Linked DNA regions of Homo sapiens: region 1 is linked to region 2. Evidence: fine-mapped QTL for protein levels in blood plasma. A gene starts in region 2. The other region holds a variant in brackets. All regions are shown on one strand. Distances are from middle to middle.

The links. A credible set is the group of variants that fine-mapping cannot tell apart. PIP is the posterior inclusion probability: the model's chance that the variant is causal. The UK Biobank Pharma Proteomics Project read protein levels with antibody pairs (Olink). The fine-mapping took linkage between variants from a reference panel, not from the people measured, so its PIPs are less certain.
Region 1: its variant is the best candidate, but not a certain one, in a credible set for the plasma level of the CDHR1 protein (UK Biobank, PIP 0.54).

What each region holds. Positions count from the first base shown.
Region 1 is chr10:84,204,720-84,208,516 of GRCh38, forward strand. It overlaps CDHR1 (cadherin related family member 1), which reads left to right. Exons shown (of 17, transcript NM_033100.4): 10 at 1,108-1,208; 11 at 3,455-3,658. Among named protein-coding and RNA genes, the nearest start is that of CDHR1, 12 kb to the left of the region's middle. The variant G/A (reference allele first, on the strand shown) is at 876.
Region 2 is chr10:84,192,395-84,197,855 of GRCh38, forward strand. CDHR1 (cadherin related family member 1) reads left to right here and starts at 2,143. Exons shown (of 17, transcript NM_033100.4): 1 at 2,143-2,421; 2 at 3,100-3,195; 3 at 4,111-4,256; 4 at 5,392-5,442. The coding sequence starts at 2,367. RefSeq lists silencers at 2,039-2,168, 2,239-2,358.

The sequences.
Region 1 (3,797 bases), 11 kb after region 2:
GTATGGAGAGGAAGGGCTGTGTCCAAGACAAGCAAGTCTCTGGGTTGTGTGCTTCGGTCCCTGCCTGTCATGATATCCAACAGCCAAGAGAGCATGGGGCAGGGGCGCTGAGAGCAACACGGAGGTGCTAACCCATGCTCCTCTCCCCCTGGGTATTTGCTCCTTGATGGGAATGCGTGGCAACATTTCTCACACTTTTTAAGTGGCTATGTATTTTCCTCATTCTTTTTAATTGTTATCCCACAGCATATAGATGAATTAAATGAATCAAATGCATTGGTGATATGGCATCTCCCTAGTGCTAGCCCTATATATGGACAAGAAAACTGAAGTTCAGAGAAGCTGAGTAGGCATCCCAAGTTTCCATCATTGTATTTGAACCTGAGCCTGCTAGCTCCACAGTCTGTGCTCTTCCCACAGCTGGGCAGCAACTGAGCCAGATGAGCTGTCCCTGGGCCAGGCCAGGGCATCGCATCTGGTGCCTGGTACCAGAAGTGTGCATGTCTATATGCCCCGGCCTTTCTCTAGGACATGCCTGTGCATACTCACTTTCCAGCAGCTCACATGTGGGCTGCCAGCCTCCTTTCCCCAGCCTCACAGGACCTCAGCTGCCTTCCTTCCCATCACCACTGCAAACCTTTACCCAGTCCTTGAGCACCCACCCCATCTCCTGCCTGTCCCACTCCACACCCTCCCTCTCCTCTCTTTATTCCCTCCCTCCTGTCCCTTCTTTCCCCCCTCCCCTTCCATGTCCGTCTCTCACTGTATGTCCTCCTGCTTCCTTTCTCTTTTCTTCACACACACACACACACACACACACACACACGTGCACACATGCACATATAGTATTATGCATAAGAAAAGGGACACAGTAT[G/A]GAATGTGGGAGCTGGACAGAAGTGAGTTCAAGTCCCAGATCTGCACTAACTGTGTAGCCTTAGACAAGTTACTTAGCCCCTCTGAGACTGTTTCCATGTTGACAAGACACAGATGACAGGATTCCATTCTATGAAGACTTCCCTAGGCAATGCAGGACGATCCTGTGGCACGACTCCCCTGCGCCTCCCTGTGGTCCTGTGCAGAACTTCAGGGTGCATCTCCCTTGACAGGGAACGATGGAGCCTTTGAAATTAATGAGACATCTGGAGCCATCTCCATCACTCAGAGCCCGGCCCAGCTCCAGAGAGAGGTGTATGAGCTGCATGTACAGGTACCCTCCCTCTAGCTTTGTCTTCCCTGCCCACCTTTGGCCCTGGAAGTCTATAAAGGTGAAGACACCCAGGCCCTTTTTCCTGGGGCCCATAGTCTGGGGAGGGGGCTAGATGTTGTTCTAAAGAGCACCTGCACCAGACATGAATTCACAAACAGGGAGTCACAGAAAGGCAAGAGGAGGTGCAACTGAAGCAGCAATGCCTGAGCATGGGTGGGATCCTGCAGGTGCATGCTGCCAGAGGCGGGCATTGGGTGGGTGGGGGTGGAGTGAAAGCATTCCAAGACAGGAAAGTGCAGCAAGCCCAGGCTGGAGGGGAGAGAACTGATATATTGGGGGAACAACAAGGAGTCAGTTGAGGCCAGAGCAGAGAAAGATGGGCAGCCTGGAGAAGGAGGAAACGTTGGACTCCCAGGCTGGGGCCAGAGGAGCAAAGGTCCTGAATGGGAGGTATGGATCTGTCGCTAGAGCCGGGCATGTGACCTGTGAAGTCACACAAGGACTATACTTAGGAGGATCCCACACTAAGCTTAATGCTCGCTGTTTGCTGTCTTGGAATTCTTAATAATTTCACCAAGGGATCCCATATTTTTATTTTTCGCTGGGCCTGCAAATTATGTAGCTGGTCCTACCCAAGAGCAGTAAGGAGCCATTGGAAGGTTTTCAGCAGGATTACAGCCACTTGAAAAGTTCACCTGGCTGCTCACCAGACCAGTGGAGTTCCCAAATTTGGAGATTTGGGCCAACCAAGATTTTCAGGATCCACTCCCGGGCATAGGAATTCAGTGTGTTTGGGGCAAACCCAGGAATCTGCGTATTATAAGCACCCAGGTAATTCTGGTACCAGTCCCAGCCAGAATTTGAGAACTCTGGTCTCAACTTGGGTTCAGAGGGAACTAGATGAGAGGTAGAGCCATCGGCCAAAGTAACAGAGGAAGACAGCCTGTGGGGCTGAGGGTAGGTGGGATGGAAGAAAGGGACAAAATGAAAAGTATGCATGAGGCAGATTGCACAGAATGAGGAAATTGCCTGATCTTGAGGGAAAGGGATGGGAGAGGGATAGATGAAGCCCAGGTGGTCCCGTGCCGTCAGGAGTACAGGACAGCAGGCAAGTGAAGTAGGTGAGGAAGGATGCATTTGAAGGCTCGAGGGACATGCAAGTTCAAACATCAAAACTTGGGCATACAGGTTTGGAATTGTGGGAGAGAATGTCAACCTACAGGTAGCTGTGGAAGGCATGGGAGGGAATAAAAGCACCCAGAGGAAGAAGAAGAGAGAGGACAATTGGCCAAGCACAGCTGCGGGAGCTGTGTGAAGAGGCTGAGAGTGAGGAGGAGGAGAGGGGCAGGTAAAGGAAACCCAGGAGGGATCAGAGAGGTTGAGGAGAAGATGTAGAGAGCAGAGTCACATTGCTGTGGGAATAGAGCACTTGGGAAGGAGAAAGAGTAGCAGTGCCACATACAGTGTGGAAGTCAGGGTGAAGAATCTGAATGAGGGGTGGGATGAGAATCAAGAGGGATAGCAGTGAAAGTGTCAAGGAGTGGAGTCCAGGTAGGGTTATTTTAGGATACAAAAGACCAGAGCATGCTTACAGAACAAGGGAAAGGTGGTCTTGAAGAGGTTCATAGGATATCTGCCACATGGTTCACAAGGTACCTATGGGATCTTTGCCCTGGCTTTGTAGGCTGTATTAGTTATCAGCTGCATAACTAATTACCCCAAACTTAGTGGCTTAAAACAATACACATTCATATCTCATAGTTTCTGTGGTTCAGGACTCCAGGCTCAGCTTGGCTGGGTCTTCGGTCTCCAGGTCCCTCACATGGTTGCAATCAGATTGTCAGCCAGGACTGGGGTCTCATCTGCAGGCTTGACTGGGAAAGGGTTGGTTTCCATGCCCACCCAATTATTGGCAAGACTCAGTTCTCTGTGAGCTGTTGGACTAAGAGGTTCAGCTCCTTGCTGGCTGTTGGCTAGAGGTCACCATTAGTCTCTGTTAACTGTAGCTTCCTGCTTCATCAAAATCGGCAAGAGAGAGAGTTCACAAGACAGACGTTACAATCTCTTGTCATGTAATCATGAAGTGATAGCTTGCCATCTTTGCCATATATTATCAGTTAGAACCAAGTTGCTAAGCCAGGACACACTCAAACGGAGGGGATTATACATTCTGCAGGGGAGGTAGGAGCTGGACCATATGAAGGGTCCACCTGCCACACAGCCATAGCCACTTGTCCCCATCCCAGGTGACTGAAATGAGCCCTGCGGGGAGCCCAGCTGCCCAGGCCACCGTCCCAGTCACCATCAGGATTGTGGACCTCAACAACCACCCGCCAACATTCTATGGAGAGAGCGGACCCCAAAACAGGTTTGAGCTGTCCATGAATGAGCACCCACCCCAGGGAGAGATCCTGCGGGGCCTCAAGATCACCGTCAATGACTCCGACCAGGTGTGTGGTCCTGCCCTCCGCTCTGCCTTCTCACAAACGGTATGAAGCCAAGGTCCCAAAGCTAAGTGGGTCTGCATCAACCTGCTCTGCGTATGTAGCCGGGACCAGGTGGGCCACAAAATGAATGAAACAAGAAGTT
Region 2 (5,461 bases):
GTGATGTGTGAGTGAGAGGCCTAGAAGCTGAAGCTTCAGTAGATTCAAGATCATCTTCTTCTGCCATGAAAAGGGTTTGAACCAGGCGGGCACAGTGGCTCATGCCTGTAATCCCAGCACTTTGGGAGGCCAAGATGGGTGGATCACCTGAGGTCAGGAGTTCAAGACTAGCCTGGCCAACATGGTGAAACCCCGTCTCTACCAAAAAAAAAAAAAAGAAAAAAAATTTGCTGGGCATGGTGGCGTGCACCTGTAATGCCAATATTTGAAAGGCTGAGGCAGGAGAATCACTTGAACCTAGGAGACAGAGGTTGCAGTGAGCTGAGATCCGCCATTGCACTCCAGCCTGGGTGACCGAGTGAGACTCCAGCTCAAAAAAAAAAAGAGTTTGAACCTTCTTTGGAGCCAACCCAAACTGTATGTGAATCCAAGCTCTGCACCTCAGAGAGAATAAGTCACTTGCTTGGTCGTACACAGCCAATGAGGAAATCTCCCTCCTCTGCAAAGCAGAGAAAATCACATTGGGAGAGCAGTGCAGGTCAAATAAGATAATATGGGCAAATATACATAAGCACACATACAGCACATGGCATGTAGGCTACTCCTTCCCCTTCCCTCTCCAGTGCATGGCTGTTGACTGAGGGAACTGAGGAGAGAGAAATCAACGGCCCTAGATTGGTGAGGAGCAGGGCTAACAGGACCCAGGGAGAGCTGGCTTTTCTCGGCCCACCAAGACATCTACTCCAGGAAACCTTGGCTCTGCCTCTGGCTCCTGGGAAATCCACGGCAAGACTCAGTCTCCACATCCCTATATGGGACTTGCAGAATACTTGCCTTAGCTTTGTCCCAGCACTTTGGGAGGCAGATTCAGAACATCTGTGCAATTTAAAGTGTGTCTTTTCAGCAAAAGAGCCAAGCCTAAGGAGACTCAACAAGGGTTTCGGCCAATTAGGCCTGAAAACTGCTGCACATTCTAAAACCATTGATTCATCTTCCTTCTTCTCTGCAAATCCCTGACCCTTGCTCACAGTAGATCATGTAGGGCTAGACCAAGGGATGGGGGGTGCTCTGTTCCCTCAAAGGCCCCTGGCAGGGGGAGGGGGGGAATGCTGAGTCCTCAGCTGTGGAGACCTCTCCCAGGAGCACACAGAGGAGGGATCTCCTCTATCTGAGAACACATCCACCCAAGGGCATCCTGGGAAGTGGCCTGGCTTGGGCTTGAAGTGACCTGTACCCCCATAAATGGCCCAACCAGGAAAAGGAAAACAGGCTGCATTTCCAAGCACCCTCCAGTGTCAGAGCAGGAGAACGAGGAAGCCCAAGGAGCTTTACCAGCAGCCAAAAAGGTTCCTGGGCTTACCTGTGTCTTCAAGTTATCAGCATCCAGGACCCCAATAGCAGTGCCTTGCTTTGTGTAAATACCCTCTAGGAATGAGATCTCGTGCCTCTCGGGCAGTTCAGATCTATCTTGGCCAGCTCTGTGCAAGTCTGTCCTAAGATGGGGCTTAACTCTGCCTTCAGGCCCTTCACTCTTCCTTGGAAGGTTTGAAGAGTGGGTCAGCTGCCCCTTCATGGTCCCAGACTGGGCACTGACTGGGAATGGGGAGCAGAACTGCCTCTCACCCTGGTGGACACCTGAGGGTCCTCCCTGCTGCCCACCACACAGATCAGACCCTTTGGGAGAGGTGGTCCAGCCTGGGGAACAGGGCAGGAATGGGTTGAGATCACAGAGAGGGGGTCCTGATAACCCCTTACCATCTGCTGCCCATCCATCACCCTTTCTCTTTGCCTTTGGTCTCACGCGGCTTATAGAACCTGCTTAGACTGCTAAGGCAAGGCCCTCTCGGCCGCTCCACTAACTTTTCTTCTGGAATGCTTAGCTCAGAGAAGACAGCTAAGCCCCTGAAAGTCACAGAGGAAGTTGATGAGAAAAGAAAACTGCGAAGCCCAAGCCCCACCAGGACTTAAGTACCCTGGGAAAGCCTCAGGACAACTTGGGGGAAAGACACTCCTGTCCCCCATGGTGTCCTCCTGTCCAGGACTGGGGGCCGCCGGCAAAGGGGGCGTGGCGGGCGGGGAGTCCTCTTGTCACGCCCTCCTGCCCCCGCCCGCGGCTGGGAGCCTGTCGCTCCGCTCTGCGCCGCTAATTGGTCTCGTCAGGCGGCCGGCAGGAGCAGATCCGAGCCGTGTCATCCTCTTAGCGCCCTCACGCCACCCGCCGCTCCCGCCCCGTGCCCCCTCCCGCCGCGGCTGCAGTCGCCGCTACCCCCATTGTGGTCTCTGCCCTCCCCGCGGGCCCAGGGCATGCTCCGTGCCCCTGCGCCCGGTCTCGGCGGCGGCAGGCGACACTCCGCGCCGGCGGAGACATGAGGCGCTGCCGGTGGGCCGCCCTGGCCCTGGGGCTGCTGCGCCTCTGCTTGGGTGAGTGGCCGCTGGGCCGCGCTGGCCGCGTGGATGGCGAGGGAGATGGGCGCTGGCGTCACCCAGGTGGCCAGAGGGACATGGTCCTGGACCACTTCCAGAGTGGGACTCGGGCTGGTGGACGGGAGCGGAGAAGTCCTTCCATCTTCCTGGCCCATTCGGTAGTGGGGAGTGGGGTAGCGGAGTAGTGGGGAGCTCCGGGGCGCTTCTCCAGAGCTGGCATCCTAGGGCCCCAGGGTTTGGCGCCCGGACCCCCGCTGCTCTCCGCTTGCTGGGAACCAGAGCTGTAGGCTTGGTGGCAGCTCCGATGCTGCGTGGGGCAGGAGATAGTGCCCTGACTCGCGGCTTGACCTTGGCTGGGCTGGGGCACTGCCCCTCTCCGAGCGCGGGTGCAATCTGCCCATTGATGAAGGAGGGGTTGGATTGCTACCTGGGTTCTAAGCGCCCACATGCTACGTGTCCCTGACAAGCCCGAGCCCACCGGGGGCGGAGTGGGGGTCAGGGGCATCCTCTGGGCGGCGCCCCAGTGGGGTCCCTCGGTGCACTTGGGTTGGGGAGGCGGAGCGCCCTCCTGCCCAGTAGCTGGGCCTGACGCGGGACCGCGCTGGTGCGAAGCTCCCTCCTGGTGTCTGGGTGTCCTTTGCCTGGGTGTCCGTCTGTTCTGTGTTCTTTTTCCAGCTCAGGCCAACTTCGCCCCGCACTTCTTCGACAACGGGGTCGGCAGCACCAACGGAAACATGGCTCTGTTCAGCCTCCCAGAGGACACCCCTGTAGGTGAGTAGCCCTGGCACCTGCTCCCGATAGGTCTCCCTGAGGGGTGCAGGCAGACTTAGAACACAAAGTGCCCCAGGCACCACCCAAGTTGCTGCGCGCGCCCGGGGGCTCCTTGTTTGCTCTCCGAATTCCCCTGGGCAATGGCAGGAAAGAAGGTCATTGCTGCCATGGCGACTTAAGTCTGGCCAGTCCTGGAGACCAGGGCTCCCCCCCACAGACAGGGTCGCCCCGCGAGGCAGGCAGCTACAGCTGCCCCTTATGGCTGTGTGACCTTGAACAAATGTATTTACCTCCCTGAGCCCCAGGTCTCTAGGCTTTAAAACGGCCTAAGAACATCCAACTTGCTGAGATATGCAGAGAGAGGGGAGGAGAAAGGGGAGATTTCACACTCCTTCTCCCTCACTTTGTGGGTAGTGGGAACCCGGGGAAAAGGGAGAGCAGAGCAAAGTAGGCACCTGGCTCAGAAATCCCTGCAGAACCAGGTCCAGGCATCGGGGACAGTGGTGCACTGTGGGTCACCCCTCCTGCCTTAATGGCTGCTCCCATTTCCCCTTCCCTGTACCCAGGAGCCCCTCAATCTTGGATCCTGAGAGAGGAGTTATTACCAGGCTGAGCAGAACATAGGCACTACAGTTAGGCACGGCAGACCTGCACCTGCTCTGTAACCCGTGTTATAGATTACAATCTGGAAAGTGGCTGATCATCACAACCACCCGCTGTGAAGAATAAACATACAAAGAGGGAAGCAGCCAGCAGGGGTGAGGCCAGCAATGAGCACCAAGTTCAGGGCAGTACCTTTGGCACTGAGTTGAATAGTCACTTTATAAACAGCTGAATCGTTGGTCCTGAGCATCTGCCACTTTTAGGAAAAGTTGGGTCTCAGATTCTATGTCTCTCCACTGTGTTTCCTTCCAGGCTCTCACGTATACACCCTGAATGGGACAGACCCTGAGGGAGACCCCATCTCCTACCACATCAGCTTTGACCCCAGCACTAGAAGCGTCTTTTCTGTTGACCCCACTTTTGGAAACATCACCCTGGTTGAAGAGCTGGACAGAGAGGTATGGGGAGGTGTGGGGAGTGCTGCGGGGCCACTGCCTGTAGACAGACCTCGGTGGGCTGAAGTTCCCCTGGAGCACATTGGTTAGAACCTCTCCACAGAGTAGGGGATGAGGGGGCACACCCCAGGCACATCCACTCTGTGAGATCTCTGGGCCACTTCCCATCAGCAGAGTGGGCTTTACTTTCATGCTCCTCCTTCACACAGAGCGAAGAGTGGGCTCCTTTAACGAGCACCTGCCAGCCCTGCTAATCTTTTAAGCATGTTCCATTAAAAATAAATCCGTTTGCACTTTGAGGTTTCTGAAAGAAACCTCACAAAGTGATTTTTCAAGCCTGTCCTGGGAGAGGCACAGGAACTCAGAGCAGGTCAAGGCTGGAAAGGGTGGTTGGCAGTGAGTCTGAGTTTGGCAGAGCTCCTCCACTCTACACACTTGAGAACTTGCAGGCAACAGGGCATGGGCTTTTTCAGACCGCATAGCAGCCTGGTGTGTGGCTAACTGGACCTCAGCTGTGGGGATGCTGCCAGCTCGTGACAGCCTCCACTAGCTGCAGGACAGGGTAGAGAAAGGAAAGGGAGGTCTCAGGGACTGCTGTGGGGACACAGCAGTGGAGCCTGACTGTGCTGCCAGTACCCCACTCCCTGGCACCCGCGGGATCTGGCAACATCCGATACCCTTCCCCATTGAGGTCTCACCATATCCTGGGAGCACTGAGACACCATGGATGTGAGCCTCTGCAGAGCCCTGGAATGTGGAGAGGTGTGGAGAGAAAAGGGGAGAAAAGGGAAAAGAAAGAGGAAAAGTCTTTATGGGACCTTGAGCACACTAAGGTCGACATCTCGCCTCACTGTGGCAGGAGAGTATTTTCTGTTGGAGCCCCAACAGACCCTCTGGGTCTCTGAGTTTATAAGAACCCCGGACACAAAAGTCCCAAAATAAGGTCTCAAGCATGGGGGGAGGCAGCTTTCTACTCTGCCAGGCATGCTGTCACCACCACTTACCCTGCTCCAGGGATCTATTGGCACGCCCAGACCTCCTCTGATGGGTGCGTGGGGCAGGGAGAGCTCCATCCAGCCACAGGGGTCCTATGGCGTGTCAGACTCCTGGACACTCACTCAGTCCCTGTGCTTCACAGAGGGAAGATGAGATTGAAGCCATCATCAGCATTTCTGATGGCCTGAATCTGGTGAGTGCACGTCCAAGGC